Regions from separate parts of the Homo sapiens genome. Here region 2 is linked to region 1. The links come from fine-mapping of genetic effects on plasma protein levels. Region 1 holds a variant in brackets. A gene starts in the other region. All regions are shown on their reverse strands.

Region 1 (5,390 bases):
CATATACACATGATACATACATATGATGTGCATGGTCCATATACACATGATACATACATATCATGTGCATGGTCCATATACACATGATACATACATATCATGTGCATGGTCCATATACACATGATACATACATATCATGTGCATGGTCCATATACACATGATACATACATATCATGTGCATGGTCCATATACACATGATACATACATATCATGTGCATGGTCCATATACACATGATACATACATATCATGTGCATGGTCCATATACACATGATACATACATATCATGTGCATGGTCCATATACACATGATACATACATATCATGTGCATGGTCCATATACACATGATACATACATATCATGTGCATGGTCCATATACACATGATACATACATATCATGTGCATGGTCCATATACACATGATACATACATATCATGTGCATGGTCCATATACACATGATACATACATATCATGTGCATGGTCCATATACATATGATACATACATATCATGTGCATGGTCCATATACATATGATACATACATATCATGTGCATGGTCCATATACATATGATACATACATATCATGTGCATGGTCCATATACATATGATACATATAATGTATACATAATATGTATATATTAATAACACATTTTTGTTATTAATTGGTAAGAGTTCTTAATGTATTCTGGGTATGAGTACTTTCTCAGATAGAAACATATACATATATTATGATAAAATTATTATTCCAGGCTGTGGCTTGCCTTTTCACTTCTTGTGTCCTGTTTAAGAAATATCTGCTATCCCAAGGTAAGATACTATACTTTTTTTAACATGTTATTTTGTTTTACCTTTCACATTTGGTGTATACTACATTTGTAATTAATTTGTCCATATTATATGACATATAGCCAAGATTTATTTTTTACCATACAGATACTCAATATTGCCATTTACGTAGAACATCGTTCTCTTCCTACTCAATTGCCTTGGCACCTTTGTAATAAATCAGATGATCGTGTATGTGTAGTTCAGTTTCTGGACTCTGTCTTCTGTTTCTTTAGTCTATTTGCCTATTCTTGTACCAATATGCACTGTGTTAATAATCGTAGCTTTGTAGTAGGTCTCGAAATCTGACAGTGTAATTCTTTTAGTTTCTTTCTTCTGCAAATTTTCTTTAGCTGTTTTACGTCCTTTGCATTTGTATATAAACTTCAGAATCAGCTTGTCTATTCCAAAAACAACAACAACAAATGAAAGTTTCAGAAACTTTAACTGAAATTGTATTGAATCTGTAGACAATTTTGGAGTAAATTGCATCTTAGCAATGTAGAGTCTTTCGAACCATAACCATGGTAAGTCTCTCCATTTGCTTAAATCTTCTTTAATTTATTTCAACAATGGCTTCCAATTTCCAGCGGGAGCTCTTGGAAACTACAATTTACATGAACTTCTAATTTGATATTTTTCGGTGTCATTATAAACATTGTTGTTTTAAAAGTTGTCTTCAATTTTTTGTTGTCAGGCACAGAAATACAATTATTGATAACATTTATATATAAACTGTATCCAGTGATCTTGCTAGATTCACTGATGAGTCTGATGTTGTAGATTCTTTGGGATTTTCTCCGTACATAATCATATCCTTTCTGAATAAGATAGTTTTACTTCTTCATTTTTAATATCTATGCCTTTTATTTATTTTTCTTTTGAACTTTTTGCTGACTTCATTATTCACTCTCATGTTTTTCTCTTTCATTAGACTATGACTCCTCGATGGTAGCAATTTGTAGTAATCAAATTTTTGTATTTTATTTTAGCATCTGGCATCTTTCTTGACATATGTAGCAGTTGCTTTTTGACAGCTTGCTTCTTCAGTGAATGAATAAATTAATAAAGAGAAATGTGATGTTCAGTGATCCATTTTGCAGGTAAGAAAACTGAGGCAGACAGAGGATGTTAGCAAGCAAGAGGCCTTGGCCTACAATTTAGATCACTGGACTCTTACTCCAGATGCAATCTGCAGAACCCACATACTTTTAATTAGTCCCTTTGTCTATGTTCTGCCACTGTCACTTCTAAGGAAGGTGTGTCATCCCAAATGGGGTAGTATCTTATTGGTAGACCTAAATCTGCTGTGTTCGCCATCTCACCTACATGAGTATCTATGTGTAGCATTCTGCATATTCATCTTTTCCACCTTCTGGAGGTTTTGTCTTTTTATAGGCAGCATGTGAATAACAATGGGGCCAAACTGGGGACCAGAAGGGGCCATTTTCTAGTTCTGAACATAGATAAGCATCACTAACTTTTCCCTCCTGGCAGTAATGGCCTCAAAAGTTCCAACTTAGGAGAAAAAGGCAAAACCGTCTGCCAAAGTGTGTGAAAAGTTAGAGCAAACCTTGGTTTT[A/G]CCAAGAACCTGTGTCCCTCTTATGGAAATTCACACTTTCACACTTTTAGACAAATATTAAATGTGTGACATTCTATTACGTACAGTGCCTGGCACATCTAGACACGCAGCACACTTTAGCCCCCTTCTTTCTTCTTCTAACTCCAAGTTCTAAACTAGAAAAAGCCCCACTTGAGTCTGAGATTTGCTTTTTGAACTAGTTTATTTCAGATTGTAATCATGCTATCTAGGGTTGTGACAGTGTTTGCTATTTCTAGGGCACTTTGACCTGATTCTTTTTGCACAGGAAACTTGTTCTACCCTTTTGCCCACTTCACTGAAGTGAGGACTGAGACAGAGAAGGATTAAGTCACTTTTTATTTAACAAATATTTGTTCCACATTCCTCAGCATTTATTAAATACTGGTGCATAATGATGGAATAAATTTTATACCGTAAGGATAAACCAGTATTCTGGACTAAGCCAACGTGGGAGACCCTAGGAGGCCTGTTTGAGAAAGTGACATTTAAATTGAGACTTGGCGGTGGCTGTGGCTACATATCTAGTAAGTGGCTGGGTTGGGATTTGAACTCATGCCTGCTTAGCTCTAAAGATGATGCTTTTGGCTTTGTACTCTGCTCTCTCTCTAGACAAACTCTGGTCCAAAATCGTTAAAGCTAACATTTATCCCTGCCCAACTGGAATTGTCATGTTATGACAAATGGCTCTGTGGTCTCAGATGCCCAGCAGACCCATTAGTGGAATTCTATGTGCTACAGACCTGGGCAAAATGCCAGAGCCTTATACACCCATCACATTTCGTCTGGCAAAGGTCTTCAACAAAGAGAAGTAATTACAGCAATGAAAAGCAACAGGTCCAGCAACACCATAAGAACAAAATAATTAATTTCCCTAAAATAGAAGAAACCATTTATAGAGTAAGAGCCGATACAATCAATAATTGGAAGAAATAGAAGAGGCTTTAGTATTCTAGCCTTCTTTATTTGTAGATGTAAATGTCGAGCCTCAGAGAAGTTATATATCTAATTAGTGTCACTCAGGTAGATAACAACAGAATTAGGATTAGAACTTAATTCTTATGACTCCCAGAGCAGGGAAAAGACAGGATGAAGTCCCAAAACATTGCGTGTGAACTCACATCTGACTCTGAATTGAGAGTCTGCTATTTACTCCCTATGTGACCAGAATCCTTCAGAGCCCATGAGATTCCCTGTCATAGAGTAGATTTTGATCCACACTAGGCATTTTTACCTCTTGCTCTTTGAGTTGGTGCCCCATGTTTACTCAGAAATATTCCAAAGGTGTTACATCTATTGGTTTTACATGTTGAGCACAGATCATTATAAGACAAATTGAAATGAAAACATCAACAAGTCTCATTCATTGTCTAACTTACGCTGAGCAATATTTAATAACTAGAATATCAAGAGAGTCCAAAGTGTTTGCCCATCCCCTCAAGACCAATGTAATGGAATTTTACTCTTATCACCTGCTCAGGGTAGTGGCAATTCAGGATACAGAGGACAGAAATAAAGAATCATGACACACAATCCACAGAATTCACAGATGCCAAACATCTACCCTTCTCTGTCACCACACATTGGACTCACATGGTGGAAATAGGCAACACAAGCAGAGAGGTGGCTTAACCTTTCATAATTTTTCAACGACCTATGGGAAGAGAGTTTTCTTGGTTCAAATCCCAGCTTAGCCACACAGAGTGTGGTAATATTGGGCAAGTCAACCAAGCTCTCTGTGCTTCAGTTTCCTCATTATTAAAATGGGGGAAATAATAGTGCCTGCATCAGAGGGTTGTTGTGAGAACTAAACGAAATAATTTATCTGAGCTTTAGAACCCACACCATATTAGTTAAAAATTCATGCATTTTCTTTTATTATATTTCTCTACCTTAGACTGCAAACTCTAAGAGGAAAGGCCGGACTGTTATATTCATAAAGCATTACAGGAACAGTAATTAGAACTAGGAGCTTTTCAATGGCCTGCCTGAAATCTGAAAAATAGGTATATTATTTGAAATTTTGAAAAAATCAAATAATTAAAAATTAATAGATGTTAATAAAATATCTGTAATATGTAATATCAAGGTCAACTCAACTCTTAATTGTTTATATAAAATATAGTGAAGTTTAAATTGCAAAATCTTACAGAAAATGTGCTATTAAAACTCAAAAGTATAATTCTTTCTAATATGTATATATATGTATATAGTTTTATTTTAAGTTCAGGGGCACATGTGCAAGTTTGTTACCTAGGGAAACTCACGTCACAGGACTTTGTTATACAGATACTTTCATCACCCAGGTATTAAGCCTAGTGCTCATTAGTTATTTTTCCTGATCCTCTCCCTCCTCCCAACCTCCACCCTCAGGTAGGCCTCAGTATCTCTTGTTCCCCTCTATGTGTTCATGAGTTCTTATCATTTAGCTCCCACTTACAAGTGAGAACATGTGGCATTTGGTTTTCTGTTCCTGCCTTAGTTTGCTAAGGAAAGCACTGTGGCAATTTCTCAAAGGACTAAAAACGGAATTACCATTCAACCCAGCAATCCCATTACTAGTTACGTACTCAAATATTTTTAAGGCAAAACAAAGCTGCAACCAGAACACCTGGACTCCCTGAAACCCCTTCCACTGATGTTGTTGTTGTTGTTTCTTTTTCCCCAGCTTCTCAGGCCAAAATACTGGATCATCTTGGGCACTGTTCTCTCCTGCCCACCCTTTCCCATATGCAGAGTGTTGTCACTTCTCTCTGCTTCCACTGCTAACTCCCTGGTCCAAGCCGCTGCACCACTTTTCGTGATTATTGCCACAGTCTCCTCACTGGTTCCCTGCCCCCACTCTTGCTCTGAACTATCCAGTTAAAACCTGAATTAGATCATCTCATCCTCATCTCAGAGCTTTCTCGTGGCTCCTCTGCCCTCTCAGGAAAAAATCTAAATTCTAGATGACCTAAAAATCCCTTGT
Region 2 (5,390 bases), not on the chromosome of region 1:
AACAATGTTAGTTATTATTCATACTGTTTCTCATAACTTAAGTTATAGGTCTGAAGACAGAACTCTGTATTATGATCAGCTAACCTTCAGAAAAATAGTTAACACAATGAGCAGAACTCAACATTAAACTCCAGGAGAGATGAGGGGAAAAGGACAGTAGTCTATATTTTCAAAAGATTTAAAACTCTTTTGGGTCAGAGACCCATTTAAAAAGCTGATCAAAGTTACGGATATTTTCCTGAGAAAAATCCACATGTACCCAGCATTTCAGGGCTGCTCTTCTAGCTGTCCTGAAATTCATCAGAGGCAGCAAATCTGAGATGGAGTATCCCGTAGGCTTTAAAACCTTCCACTTCCAAAATCTATTTCGATAAACCTTAAACCACTGTTTTCTCCATCCCCCAAGGAAATTTATAAACATTGTGCCTTGCAATATAGCTGTTGACATTGGCTACATTAATTTCATGGATTAAAACAAAAGAGCATCATTTTAATCACCAGTAGTCTGCAGGAAAATTCCAACCAGAACTATAGCTTCCAATCAGGTTCTGGAGTTGCCACTCCAAATCAGCAAGGAACAGTGAAACCAAAAGTATGGGAACACCCTGCCTATCAGAAGTTCCAGACCAATGGTCAACTGACCCTTCTCTGTCACTGTTGCAAAGCAGATGATACTGCAGGAGAGACTTTTCTGATTGACTAAAATTCTGTGAGAATTTTACACGAATAAGGACCCGAAACTAAGACAATCATAACAAACCTTAAGATCTCTATGATACTTGTTAACTTTAAGCAAAACTAGCTTTTTCTTCACTTTTTAAATCTAAATGGCTTTTGCTGTATTTTCAGTTCTTCTCTTTATATGTCTTTATGTTCCTTCCCATGTATTTCCTTGCTCTGTTGGCCACATTACTTCACACGAAAACAACAGGAGTTTAAAAATTTAACCTGTATTATATCTTTTTTATTCATTTATTTATTTTTTGACAGGCTGGAGTGCAGTGGCAGATCATATAGCTCACTATAAACTGGAACTCCTGGTCTCAAGCTATCCTCTCGCCTCGGCCTTCCAAAAGTGTATTGTATCTTGATGCTTTCAGTAGAATGGTTCACCTTATAACCTCTACATGGCAGGATGCATAATCACCAGTTTATTCTGTAATACCTGAGCAAAAATTCAGCCTAGCTAATATGGCCTCTTTCACCACACTGACAAGATAAGGATGACGTCCACTTAGTTGGCCACCACCAGTATCATAATATTAGATAGTAGTTTAAAAATATATAATGGAAACTAGCTGGTGACCACCACTTTACTTCCAGTTTTGAAATTGCTGACTCATCCTATTTAAGAATCTGTTGTAAGCATCATTTAAGAATTAGTTTGGTTTAGACATACTTTGAAGTCAACATAGTTTTTAATGCATGGAATTACATAAAGTCAAATGAACTATATACCCTTGCTACATGCGGTCTTAATAACACTTGAAAAAATTGGCTGGATTTTCATTTAAAAGCCACCTTGAATAATGATTTTATTTCAGTGAAATTCGCTCGTATTTTTTCCAAGTTCCTTCGACATTCTAGATACACTATCGCTTCTCTAAGAGATAACTGGCTGGCGCAGAGTTGGAACCAATACAGACCCAGGCCTGACTGCCAAGCACTGACCATTCCTGCAAATTTCTCTCCCAGAAGACGTGTGCAAGCAAAGAAGAGGGCGATAATTTGATTTTGCAAAGGTAGGGATAGACGCGCACGCACAGACATCTGCACCGGCCCACAATGAGTTTGGGACGGGAGCAGTTAGGAAGTGGGGAGCTGCGGTACCTTTTCTTGGCCTTCCTGAGCTTGACTGGGTGCAGAACTCAGCCCTCAGGGCTGCGGGACAGCGTCTTCTCAGAAACCCGCAGCTTGGCTGGGGCCGCCAGACGCGCGTCCCTCACCCTCCCAGCGGAGCGCGGGGTGCCCGGCCCGCCTTGCGCTAGCCAGCAGCCTGGAACGCCGTAAGAGCGCAGCGCAGTAGGGAGTCGCACGCCAGGGGCAAAGGGACCTGCGATCTGCGCTCCTCCGGAAGCGGGAGGATGGCTAGGAGAGCCTCAGAAGTGTCATTAAAGGAAAAACCAAAAATTGAAGTTGCGGCTAAGTTTTCCCCATGAGAAGGCGGGGCAGCTCGGCCAGTAGGATAGACCGGAGGGTAACGCTGGAGCTGGGAGGGGCCCTGGGCGTAGGCTTTCGGGGAAAATTCCATCGCCCTTTCAACCACCACCACTCCCCTCCCAAGGCAAAGAAGCCGAGCTCTGTACCTCCATCGAGTCCTGGCTGCAGGGTGGGGGGCGACAGCCACCGCAGCCGGGAGGGTGCGGCCACCCAGTTCCCTCCCGGGGGGCGCCGGACTTCGAAGGCAGTGAGCGAGTCAGCTGGGATTCCCCCGGGCGCCTGCCACCCGGAGTCCCAACCCCTGGCGAAAAGAAAAGTGAAAGAGAAAGAGCCGGGAGCATAGGCGAAGACAAACACCTCCCGCGGAGACTGGGGGTGGGGCGGGTGGCGGCGGCTCCTGGATGACTGACTGCCCCAGGTGTCACTGCTTCCCGGCCTGTTTCCGTCCCTGCCGGGGCCTGGGGCGCAGAACTTGCAGGGCAAGCGCAAGGACATCGAGGAGCCCCAGCCCCGCCCTGCAGGAACACCAGCCACCGGTCTCCTCCTCTACCTGCCGGGACACCTGCAGAGAAGGCACAAGGATAGCCGCATCCCAAGCGACGGGCACCATGTGGGAAGCTTCCGCAGCTGAACCTGGAGACCCGGGCTGGGCTGGCGCGCATCCAAGTCTTCCTGAGGAAAGGGAAAAGGATGTCGGATCTGGATGCTGGGCGGCTACTCTAGACCGGCCTCTTGGTCCCCGCACAGGCTGCAAGAAGGAAACTTTGAAGTCCAACTAGGGGAAATGTTGGAAGAAGACACCCGGGTGGCAGCTTTGTGCAAGACAGTTGGTACAGGGAGTGAACTTAGAGCAATGAGCCTCTCTGCGGATCACTTTTCCAGCCTATTGTGTAGTCCAGTGTAAAATATCACACATGGTCCCATTTGATGGAAGCGTGAGATGTTGTTCTTGTAGTATTTTTACATTGGAGGAAGGAACTGAGTTGAGGCTGAGTGATTTGCATGCCATAAAGGCAGTAGCAAAGATCTCACGCTTAGTTTTGAAAGTACTTTGCAGAATCTTGCACTCTTGTGAATCACTGAAAATCCCTCTTGTACGGTGCTTTCCAAATTTTCAGAGTCATGGTTCAGAGAAAATGATGTCTTCCTGGAGCGCAGTTTAATTTAGTTTAAAATTTAATTATGTTTTTAATTACATAAATATGATAAATATCAAATAGAAAAATAATAGAAATTATTCACTTTCCATGTACATAAAGTTCCGTATAATATAATTTCATATTTTTATGAAAAATTTGAGTTTATTTTCATTAACTCAATTTTTTGATATCAGTTTTATATTTGAAATAATTACTGATGGACTTTTTGATGAGAATTACATCAAACTCTAGATAGTCTCCATTAACAAAATAAGTGAGGTATAAAAATGCAAAAACAGTTTTTACAACCATTCAAAATTTCACCATAGTTGGAAATTATATTTAAGAATATGAAGCCATCATCCATTTCTGTTCATGACGATGTCATGTTGAATTTTCTTGTGATGGTGTCAATGGATTTCAAGACCAGTCAGAATTTTTCATAGCAATACATTGAAGCTCTGATTTGCAGAATGAGCATGCACTGGGAGAGCAAGACTGCAGCTGGTTTGGATCTCACCACAAGAATATAGCAGCCACGGAAGGACTGATATGCATATGTGTGAAGATAGAGAATAGGGATGAACAAGTGTATCATGTGTCCCAACCTCATTTTGGACTGTTGCAGAGCTTCCTGGACTCCTGCCATGTAAACTCCTCTAGCACCTCTTTCAGCTCCTTTAATGGATACTGTGTTCTCTGCAGCCGGTGAAGGAAGCAGGTGTCCACGCTCAGCACCACCTAGCAGAGCTCAATATCAGATATTGCTGCTGCCAGAGGACATATCATCACATCTCAGATCCTGTCTCTCTTGGACTGCCCACAAACTCTATAGAAAGTGCTCTCAGCTGGTGCTCACTAGCCTGTGGGCTTCAGCTTTGTTAGCTGTCTGCAGGACTCAGGGCCATCAGTATCTGACTGCATACTTTTAATATATTGAGACCACCAAGAACGTTCTGAGCTACTAGAGAGTTTTCACAACACTATGAAATTGACGGAAAGTTTACTTGTAGGGTGAACTTAAGGCATAATCTGAGTATATAACAGTAAGAAAATTGGTCTACAACTGTTTATTGGGTTTCAACTATAGTAGGTTCTAGAACAAGATGGACTAAATGATATATAAAGCATTTTGTCAGAGTAGGGAGATAAAAAACATAAATAACAGTAAAGTACAACTAAAAATTATTATAGTCATAAGATATGCTTTGCTCTACTATTTGCCTCCCAAATATGTTGGTCAAATTTGTTTTCATAAATACAGATGTTTTAAAAGTATTTTTAATTAGTTATGAGTGCCTGCAGTTCAATGAAGTTGGGTTTGCAACATAATTTGTTTTTGTTGCATTGCACTCAAAAAGAAAAGTCTAATGTATGCAACTTGTGTTTTCAGTTGCCACAGGCTGTTTGGCAAAATATTGAAAATTACTCATACCAATGAACAAGTAAATTCTGCTGCATAAATTAAAAGCAAAGATGAAGATTGATGAAATAATTTGAAACTGTCTTAAGATAACTAATAAAATTACAGGGTAGAAAGAAGTGGAGATTAACTAAATCTCATAGAAGTGACCATAATAATCTTCCTGAATTCAAATAATTAACAATAAAATTATAGTTTAATAAATTTTTAATATCTTTTTTCAAAAACAATGTCAATTGGGCAATCATCTTTAAAATAAATTACTAATAATTTATTTTCTAGCTTTTGTGATTACATGGAAGAAGTTACAAGTTATTTCATCTGATTTAGTGTTCAAAGTCCATGACTGTGGCCTTATTTATGGTTTTACTAAGATTTAAACCTCCCATCAAGAACAAGTTGATCCCCTGCTCTTTGGAAAACATGGCCTGCCTGGGTTCTCTACATTTCCATTCGGGGTAAAGCATGCTGAAATGCAGCATTACCTCGAAGTTGCTTCTCACATTTTTTTCTGGTGATCCTGACAATAGACAGATACTCTTGGCCTTAAATACTATTTAGGTTTTCAAGAGCTCCTCAAGTTGCTGCTTTTTCAGAACCACAACAGTATTAGTTAGGACTTCTGTAGTTCCTCCAATCTGCTATTTCTCCAGTGCTGTGCTAAACAC

Which allele goes with the higher level. Alleles are on the strand shown, and positions count from the first base shown. The strength of an association depends on the size of the effect and on how common the allele is.
With allele G in place of A in region 1, the plasma level of the protein whose gene starts at base 2,472 in region 2 is higher (weak association).

What was found. PIP is the posterior inclusion probability: the model's chance that the variant is causal. The UK Biobank Pharma Proteomics Project read protein levels with antibody pairs (Olink). The fine-mapping took linkage between variants from a reference panel, not from the people measured, so its PIPs are less certain.
Region 2: it holds the start of IL15, and the variant in region 1 is fine-mapped to the plasma level of the IL15 protein (UK Biobank, PIP 0.96).

Annotation. Positions count from the first base shown.
Region 1 is chr8:127,198,577-127,203,966 of GRCh38, reverse strand. No RefSeq gene overlaps it. Among named protein-coding and RNA genes, the nearest start is that of CASC19, 3.6 kb to the right of the region's middle. The variant A/G (reference allele first, on the strand shown) is at 2,405.
Region 2 is chr4:141,633,665-141,639,054 of GRCh38, reverse strand. IL15 (interleukin 15) reads right to left here and starts at 2,472. Exons shown (of 8, transcript NM_000585.5): 1 at 2,307-2,472. RefSeq lists an enhancer at 2,470-2,559.